3 separate regions of the Homo sapiens genome follow, and all the other regions are reported to be linked to region 1. The links are microRNA targets in miRTarBase. Many come from high-throughput screens and were not tested one by one. Region 1 holds a microRNA gene; each other region holds the end of a gene's coding sequence. Distances are between the middles of the regions.
Evidence for each region. The annotated mature microRNA hsa-miR-891a-3p reads AGUGGCACAUGUUUGUUGUGAG and lies in region 1 at 1,050-1,071, shown strand. An mRNA with a match to its seed (bases 2 to 7 or 8) in the 3' UTR can be bound and repressed. Matches are read on the target gene's strand: a 7mer-m8 pairs with bases 2 to 8, a 7mer-A1 pairs with bases 2 to 7 and ends in A, and an 8mer does both.

Region 1 (3,109 bases):
AAACAGAGTTGTTAAGTCACCAAGAGTTACTTCTAATTGTACAACTGGCCTATCACATCATGAATTTGTATGAACTGTCAGCTCAACATAAGTTTCACAGCCATTTGCTTCATTTAACGTGTCATATCAGACACCAACTTGGTTTTCTTGGAAAGTTTGAATTTGTAAACGGCAATTACCTAGTGTTGATTATTATTATAGAACTGTTAAGAATACCATTTAGGAACTCCTGTGGTAGATTCTCCACATTTTTCCTTCATATATCTTTTTATTAATATCTTTGAACTTCATTAGGCAATAAGCAGTAGAAGAATTTTATCAAAATTCTTTAAAAAAATAGAGTTAGATATGGACAGGCAATGAATTTGAGAGAAATGAACAATATAGGGCTTGCTCATTATTATTGTGAATAAAGCCTGAATTACATAATCCCTTCAATTTTTTGTGTGTGTGCTTTTCAGGGACATTATCTTATGTATGCATGGATATCTGTGAATATATGTATACATATGTATATTTTTAGAGAAATTTAGCTTTTCAACGAGTCTTCACTCAATTATCGCTGGTTGTTTGGAGAAGGTTGTCATTCTTTTTAATCTGTCTTTTTTTCTTCCCAGTATAAACTTATCTTGTAGTTGTCACATTTTACGTATTTCTGGGTTGAGAATCATTGTCTATATTTGTAGAATTGCATTCGGTATAGATAGCCTCATTCAGTATCATAATCAGTGATTTGCAAATTTTGGGAAGTCGGAATTCTTACAATGGATTGGTAGAGCTTTACTACCAGCCCCTTCAAGATTTTCATCCTCCAACTGCAGAACCAGGAAATTATCACTAATACAAATGGGAAAGAAAATATACATGCTGATAGTTACACAGGTTGTGAATAGTAAATTAGTATGTCATTTATTTTAGGTATTCAATGTTGCATAGTCATATTATAATTACGTAGCTTCTTTGTTTTTTTCTAGGTTCCCAAAGAGTCTACAAATGTTGTCTCCTTAATCCTTGCAACGAACCTGAGCCACTGATTCAGTAAAATACTCAGTGGCACATGTTTGTTGTGAGGGTCAAAAGAGATAATCTCTACAGGCCTCATGGACACTGCAAACCATGTAAGTCATCAGTTATGTAGCTACTGCTGCTTCTCCTTCACCTCCTTGTAGTGACACTGGTAGTAGAGTAATCATAGCGGTAGAGACTGTATTACTAGTACTTTGGTAAAAATGACAGCATGTTCAATAAACACCTTTTATTAGGTCAGAGATCAGAGGACAGGTAGCAGCAAGATGAATTTCTTCTTATTTTCTGTTTTTCTGAGGTTAATGTGGATGGTTTCTGTGAGGTTAACGCTGCGTAGCAGTCTTAATGTTGTTCTATGATCACATGATTAGCTGTGATTACTGTGATTATCTCTGCATTTCTGGTTTTTTCCATTTGCAAATGTATGTTCTACACATGTCCTCAATTGCTATGACAAATCAAAACTGTTCTGTGATTATATGGTTATCTGTGATTACTGTGATTATCTCTGCATTTCTGTGTGTCTTTTTCCATTTGCAAATGTACGTTATATACATGTCCTCAATCACTGACAAATCAAAACTTTCGGATATCGTTTCTTTGGGAACAATTTGTTGTAGTTATGGAATGTGGAAATGCATATGAAAATCTGAAGTACATATCTGCCAGGCATGTAGTCATTAAGCAAATTGTCCTGTTAGTACTACTGCAAGCAGTACTAGTACTATAACTAATGGTATCAGTCCTAGTAACACTGCTATTATATTAGTACTAAGAAGGGTATCATCAGTTATCACTCATAGGATTTCATTGGTGGTTTTTCATATACATATTGTAATGTATTCTGCTTTATGATTCAATTTACATATTTTTCTAGAATACCCTGTGGATATCTATGCCCATAGAGATAATTTATTTGCAGTGCAAGCGTTGACGCCACTGCAAACACAGGTAAGGGGAAGTTAATGGTTGAAGATGACAGACTTGATTTTATTCATCCATGATTGCAAATTATAAAATATTATGTCCTTACCTGATCATTTACTTTAATTTGGCATAATTGTTGCATATAAATGGTGAATGGGACATCCTCACCTGGTTCCTGATCTTAGGAGTCAAACATAAAAATGTTAACAATTAAGTCTTCCGTTAGCTGTGCGTTTTCATAGAAGCCCTTCAACCAATTGAGGATATACTCGATTCTATGCCTGATTTGCTGTTATTATTTTTAGATATGGATGTTAGATTTAGTCACATATTTCTCCGCATCAATTGAAATGATCTCTTTTTTTCCATTTTAATCTGTTAATATTGAAAATTGCCAGGCTTTGCCTGGGTTCCCATTCTTTGCACTGGAGTCAATATTCTCTCTCTGAGAAGTTGGCAGGAGAATGGACGGACTGTTCTAATGTGTCCCCTCTCTCACAGATCACTCTACAGTGTCTGAAAGACATGTTTTTCTGTATATATCTGGTTTTTCTTTGTTTTAGACAGCAGATTAATTTGGTCACTATTCCTTCATCTGATCTGGAAACAGTAATCTCCGATTACCAAATGGTAAGAGCCTGGAAATCCTTAGACATGTAGAGGCCTATGTACAAAAAGCTCATAATTTTTACATATTACCTATTCATTACCATCTTACCTCTGATATCGTTCATTATTTTTGAGACCATTCTAGTGAGATGTTTACACCTATAGGATTTTTAAATAGTTTTCAGTAAAGCATTGCTCCACCTAATTCATCTGGTAAGGGCTTTAAGTTGTTAGCCATCCTGAAGTCTCCTCTTGGAAATGTTTGTATGTTTCGGAGATCTGAGTATACAGTTGGGCACTTCTACAGATTCGTCTTTCTTTTTGCTAAGATTCTTGTTTTTCCGTTATTTATTGATAGTTAATACTGATGGTTTGTGAAGTAAGTACTTTGTGTAGTGTCTCTTTGTTCTCTCCCACCCTTACAAATCTAATGGTTTTAATGTTTTAATGACTCTAGATAGACAGTGATATCTCCATTTTTAATGCATTGCTGTATTAAAGAAATTCTCATTCCACATCATCACAGTCAGTAAGTTCCAAGCAAGTC
Region 2 (3,109 bases), 76 Mb from region 1:
TCACCATTCGCACACATTCTGTCACCACTCTCCTGAGCTTGCTTGCATTCTCTTGAGCATGGGTTTGATTAGATGATCAGAGAACAGGGGCCAGGATGAGACTGGAGCAAAGGGAAAGAAAGAAAGAAGGGGAGGAAAGCCAGATACTGAGTTTCAGTACATGGCTCCCAGTGAGGGATGAGTAGTTTGAGTTGAGGGGGGAACTCTGATGTTTGTCTCTTTTCTTTTTTCATAGTTGGGGAACCCCTTCCAATTCCCAGGATTAAGAGGCCAAACCAGAAGACAGTAGACAAGTATCACGCACTCTACATCAGTGCCCTGCGCAAGCTCTTTGACCAACACAAAGTTGAATATGGCCTCCCTGAGACCCAAGAGCTGACAATTACATAACAGGAGCCACATTCCCCATTGATCAACCCCCAAAGCCATGAGGGATCCAAGTAGAGCCACAGAAAAAGAAGAATTCCAGGAGAGGGAAAGATCGTAAGGATGAGAGAGGAGACCATCCAAGCCAGAAATTATTTAATAAATCAGAGTTCTAGCAATAGAGTCCTCTCCCAAGTGGCTGAGGCAGGCTTAGGGGAAAGAACCAGAGGGGCAGGGGAGGACTGGGGAGGGCTGGCTAGCCAGAGGAGTTGGCTGTATCACCCCTGGTTATTTTAGGGCAACAACCCAGTTGGGGAGTCTTATGAATCATTCCAGCCAACTCTCTGATCACAAAGAATACTGTGCCCCTTTCTCCTAAACCTTAGTTCACCATCACTACGTAGGTTTAGACTTAGAAGCTTTATTTGGAACAGGGATAGTTTGTTTCCTCTTGGTCCTTTCCTTACAACTTGGGAACTGCCACAAGGTAAACCAGGGACCTGAACTGTAGCTGCCTGGTCCAAGCAGACAGGATTCCGTCAGTTGTGATAGAGTTCTAGATTGGCAATGCAGTTACATTGTTTCTTCTTTGAAAATAAAGTTCTAGACATATAAAACAGGATACCACTATTTCCTGATTATTCTGTGGTTCGCTATTGGGCTTCCCTCAAACCTAAGATTTTCCCTTCTGGCCAGAAAGCTGCTCTATGGAGAGCCCTTTTCCTCTTCTTTATTTACCCTTCATACTTCCCCGGACAGAAAAGGTGGGGGAATGGAACCATAGCTGCTGCAAAGTGTAAGAGACAGGAGCAGAAACATGGGAACTGGCACAGGTACCCGCTGTGTAGCCCACCTCTCCTGATCCCACATAACCATCCTATGTCAGAAGGGAGGGAGCCACAAGACCATGCACCAACTGTAAGTTTGCTTGATGTCAAGTCCCTTCTATGTTCCAGGGACCATGACATTGCTTTCATAACCATTGTCTCTCAATACTAAACATAAGCCCAGTGAGATTGAGATTGTCATCACCTCCATTTCACAGTAGCTAAAGCTCCTAGAGGGTTAGTAGCTTGCCCAAAGCCACACAACTTTGGATAGAACTAGCATTCAAACCAGAGTTCTCTCCAATGCACCACTCTATGTCCCCATTCCTCATTTTCTGGAGACCCACTTTTCAGCTTCATTTTCCTAAATGAGGCCCCATGGCACTCCACCAAAATTAGTTCATAAGTGTGGGCAAAAATGGCATGGATTCTACTCACAGTGGTCCTATATTAGGCCTCAGGGAAAATAATTGATTAATTTAAAAAACCTTTCTATATCAATAGAATGGAATTGAGAACACAGAGGGTCAATTGATTTTCACCTAGGGTGCCAAGACAATTCAATGTGGGAAAGAATAGTCTTCAACAAACAATACTGAAACAACTGGACATCCACATGCAGAAAAATAAAGTTGGACCTTACCTCATATCATATACAAAAATTAACTCAAATGGATCAAAGACCTAAAGTGAAAGTCAAAACTATTAAACTCATGGAAGAAAACATAGGTGTAAAGCTTCATAATCTTGGATTAGGCAATGGCTTCTTATATATGACATCAAAAGCACAAACAACAAAATAAAAAATTGATAAGTTGGGCTCCATTATAATTAAACACTTTTGTGCTTCAAAGGACACCATTAAGAAAGTGAAAAGACAACCCACAGAATGGGAGAAAATACCTACAAATCATGTATCTCATAAGAGTCTAGGAGCCAGAATAGATAAATAATTCTTATAACTCAACAACTGAAAGGCAATTCAATTTTAAAAATAAGCAAAAGATTTAAATAGACATTTCTCCAAAGAAGCTATACAAATGAAAAAGTAAGGGTCAGGTGCAATGGCTAACGCCTGTAATCCCAGCACTTTGGGAGGCCCAGGAGGGAGGATTGCTCGAGCCCAAGAATTCGAGACCAGCCTGGGCAACATAGTGAGACCCCATCTCTATAAAAAATTTAAAAATTAGCCAGGTGTGGTGGTGCATGCCTGTGTTCCCAGCTACCAGGAGACTGAGGTGGGAGGATTGCTAGAGCCCAGGAGTTCAAGGCTGCAGTGAGCTACAATCGTCACGTCACTGCACTCAAGCATGGGTGACAGGGTGAGACCCTGTCTCTAATAAAAAAGAAAAAGTGCTCAAAATCATTAATCATTAGGAAAATGCAAATCAAAACCACCATGATACCATTTTACACCCACTAGGATGACTATAATAAAACAAGATAGACAATAATAAGTATTAGTTAGGATATGGAGAAACGGAATTCTTGGGCATTGCTGATGGTAAAATGGTAGAGCCACTTTGGAAAACAGTTTGACAGTTCTCAAAGAGTTAAGTGTAGAGTTACCATATGACCCAGCAATTCTACTTTTAGTTATATAACCCCCAAATTTAAAACATGGTCACACAAAAACTTGTACATAGATGATCACAGCAGAATTACTCCTAATAGCAAAACAGTGCAAACAATCCAAAGGTCTAGCAACTGATGAATGGATAAATGTATTGGGGTCTATCCATACAACGGAATACTATTTGGCAATAAAAAATGCAGTGATGATACATGCTACAAAACAGATGAACCTTGAAAACATTATGGTAAGTGAAAGAAGCCAGGTCATATATTGCATGATTCCATTTCTATGAAATTTCTATGAAATGTCCAGAATGAGCAAATATAGAGATAGAGAGAAA
Region 3 (3,109 bases), not on the chromosome of region 1:
TCCTCCTCCCGCCTGCCCCATGCACCTCCCACCCTGAAGTTCCCTGCCACCCCTCGCCCTGTGCCAGCTTGTCTCTGCAGGCTCTCAGTCCTGGGGGCTGGAGAACAGGTGCTCAGTCCTCTTTGCTGCCCACAGAAGTCTCAGAACATTCTTGCCCCACCCTCCCTTGGGCCAAAGCCCTTTAGGGTCCCGTCCTTTCATGCTGTGCTCTCCTCCTCCTCCTCCTCCTCCCTGCCTCTCTCCTTGCTCACTGAAGACCTCAGCACCCACTGCCTCCCAGCCTTGCCCTGAACCAAGCACAGACGACCACCACGCTGGCAATGTCTCTGTCCACCAGAGGGGTGATGGGTCAGCCCCCAAGAACCTCCTACGCCACAGGGAGGAGTTGGAATTTTATTCCAAGTGAGGCAAAAACCATGCAAGGTATAGAGCAGGGGAGGCCAAGGCCAGGTGTGGGTTTAATCGGGGTCTGTCGGTGGCAGGGCAGCTGCAGGGAGGCCGTGTTGGTGATGCCTGGGCCAGGGCACAGTGGTAAAGTTTAACCCAGGCTCCCCTGTCTACCCCTGAAAAAGACTGGAAAATGCTGAGTCCCAGCCAAGGGTCCAGGGTCTAGGAGCTGAGGTCAGAGAGGCCCAGGAGGTGGGGGAGGCAGGCCCAGTGAGGTGGCCCTCTCCTGGTCTTGCTGGCTTCGGTTTTCCCAGGGGAGCTCACTGCACCCTGAGCGGCATTGTCCCCCATTGCCCTGACCCTTGCCCCCACCTCCTTGGCTGGTGGAGCCAGGAGCCTGGGAGGCCCCTGTGCACACCTGGCAGCTTCACCTCCCCAAACAGGCCCGGAGTTCATTCAAATCCAGCCTCTGGGAGCAGGGGCCTTGCCACTCGGTTATGTGAGCCTGCTAAAGCCCTCCTTGCCATGTGTGCTTGCAGGCGGGGGCCCAGAACCAAGTTGGGAGGCCACTGGCTGTCCTGTGGGACCAGAGAAGTCTGGTGCCACCCTAGCAGGGCCAAGGGACTTCTTCTGGACGTCAGTCTGTGCCCAGCCTCTACCACCAGCTTTCCCTTCCCTGCAGGGAGGGGCATGACCTGCAGAACCAAAGGTGCTTCTGTGAGCCAGTAGCCCAGTGCTGCTTGGGGGCAGGGGCGGGGCCTGTGCCTTGGGTTCCCCCCCCTCCCTGGGCACATTTGGGGTTGGGGCAGCCCACACGGTGGGGTGGGAAGATTGACCTGCCCATTTTACAAATGAGCAAAGGTGGGAGAACTCAGGGAGACATGGGGGAGCAGAGGGAGGAAGCAGAGCCCAACAGCCCGGGGCACCCGGACCCCAGCCACTGCCTGCCTGTGGATGGGTTTCTGGCCACGGTGCAGGGCTACTGCGAGGAGGAAATGAGGGTGATGTGGGCACCTGAAACAGCAGAAATGGCTCAGGGCCAGGCACTGGGGAGCCACTGTCCCCATGGGGCTTGAGCTTCTGCCTCAGAGGGACCTTCCGGCTGCCATTGAGGGTCCCAGCACCAAACCCCACAGCTGGACCACTTGGGACCTCAATCCACAGGGGGCCAGGGCTGCGGCCTATGGCAGATAAAGATAGAGGAGGAGGGCTGGATGAAGCCACAGGTGGTGGGCACAGGATAGGCCAGACAGAAGGGACTTTGGGGGACTCCACCTTGGGTAGAAGGAGGGACAGCTGAGGTCCTGTGGTGGAGAAGGCCTGGAGCAGAGGGTGACCAAGGAGATGACAGAGTGCACGTACAGGGCCAGGCCAATGGGAGTGGGAACCCTTGGGAGAGGGAGCTTCAGGCCATTCATTCAGTTCCTGTTTAGCCAGCACCCTCCTCCCCTCATCTGTCCCTCTGCCCTCACCCCAACATGCCAGAATCTCCTTCCTCTCCAGCTTGTACCCAAGCCCTCTCTGCTCCATGCCCCCAGCCTGCTGACCACCTCTCAGCCATGTCCTGGGCCTCCAGATCTGTCCCTGATCCTAGTCTTGCCTCTGAGGGGTCCATCATCCTTGTCTGTCCCCCAGACCTCCCACGCCAGCCCCTGCTCCCACCCTGCCTGGCTGCCTCGTGCCTCTGGCCCAGCTGGGTAGGTAGGGATTTGCATAGCTGCTCCCCAGCTCCTCCATACCTCGGCTCCCCACACAGCACTGCTAGGCGCCCCTGCAGGGTCCTCCCTCAGCTCAGAGGCTGCCCTACTGGCTGAGGTGCAGGCTGGTGCCAAGAGAGCATGCTGCTCTGTCAGCATGAGGCAGTGAGCAGGGCTCTGGGCAAGGGTGGCATCCAGGAAAGCCCTTGAAGACTGAGGGGCGCTTTGCTGGTTGGGCCAAGGGAGGAAGGGCCTGCCTGGCAGAAGGAACAGCCTGGGCAAAGGCCCCAAGATGGGAAAGCCTTGGTGGTTGGGGCATAGAATGGGGGGGCAGTGGGGCCGGCCAAGACAGGAAGGGCCTTGAATGTGAGGGTGAAATGATGGGGTGTCCCTGGGGGCCTTACTCCCAACTCAGATCAAGTCCTTTGGTGGCAGGGGCTGCCCCGGTCCTCTGACCCAGGGCAAGCTCTATGAGCGGTGGAGCCCATCCTAGAGATTTTCATAGACCAGGTTAAGTTCGCCATCATCTTCGAATCTATGCGGTCTCTCCTGGATAGAAAAGAAGAAAGGGAGGGAAGGAGAGAAAGAGAGAGAATGACCATTAAGAATGAACTTGCACTAATTTAGTTTTAGCCAGAGGGCAACAGATCACTTCCTGTGTAGCTTTGATGGGGGGCCTGCCCTCTGTCTCCAAGCCCACCTCCCCAGCCTCTTCCCCCACCATGCTGCCCCCACCCCTGCCCATTGCCCTCCAGCCACATGGGCCTGCCCTTCCAGCCTCAGAGCTTCCCCCACAGCTCTGCCCTCTGCCTTCTGCCCTATGTGTGGGATGCGCCTCCTCCCACAGACACACCTGTTCCATGACTGCCCCCTACTCACTCTGCCTGCGGGCTCATCATAGGGTCCCAGGGACCCCCTCCCTCCCTCCCCACCCTGGCTGGTCCCTCCCAGAAGAACACCCCTCACAACAGGGCTACAAATGCCTCTGTGTGTCCATGGGGTCAGCGACCTATTCCTGCAGACTA

Region 2: miRTarBase lists DGAT2L6 as a target of hsa-miR-891a-3p. Seed matches in the 3' UTR shown: 7mer-A1 at 845-851.
Region 3: miRTarBase lists NFAM1 as a target of hsa-miR-891a-3p. The part of its 3' UTR that is shown has no 7-base or 8-base seed match.

What each region holds. Positions count from the first base shown.
Region 1 is chrX:146,025,766-146,028,874 of GRCh38, reverse strand. MIR891A (microRNA 891a) reads left to right here and starts at 1,003; the gene lies at 1,003-1,081.
Region 2 is chrX:70,204,717-70,207,825 of GRCh38, forward strand. It overlaps DGAT2L6 (diacylglycerol O-acyltransferase 2 like 6), which reads left to right. Exons shown (of 7, transcript NM_198512.3): 7 at 236-988. The coding sequence ends at 390. Among named protein-coding and RNA genes, the nearest start is that of AWAT1, 28 kb to the right of the region's middle.
Region 3 is chr22:42,382,588-42,385,696 of GRCh38, forward strand. NFAM1 (NFAT activating protein with ITAM motif 1) reads right to left here. Exons shown (of 6, transcript NM_145912.8): 6 at 1-2,633. The coding sequence ends at 2,574. Among named protein-coding and RNA genes, the nearest start is that of LINC01315, 15 kb to the left of the region's middle.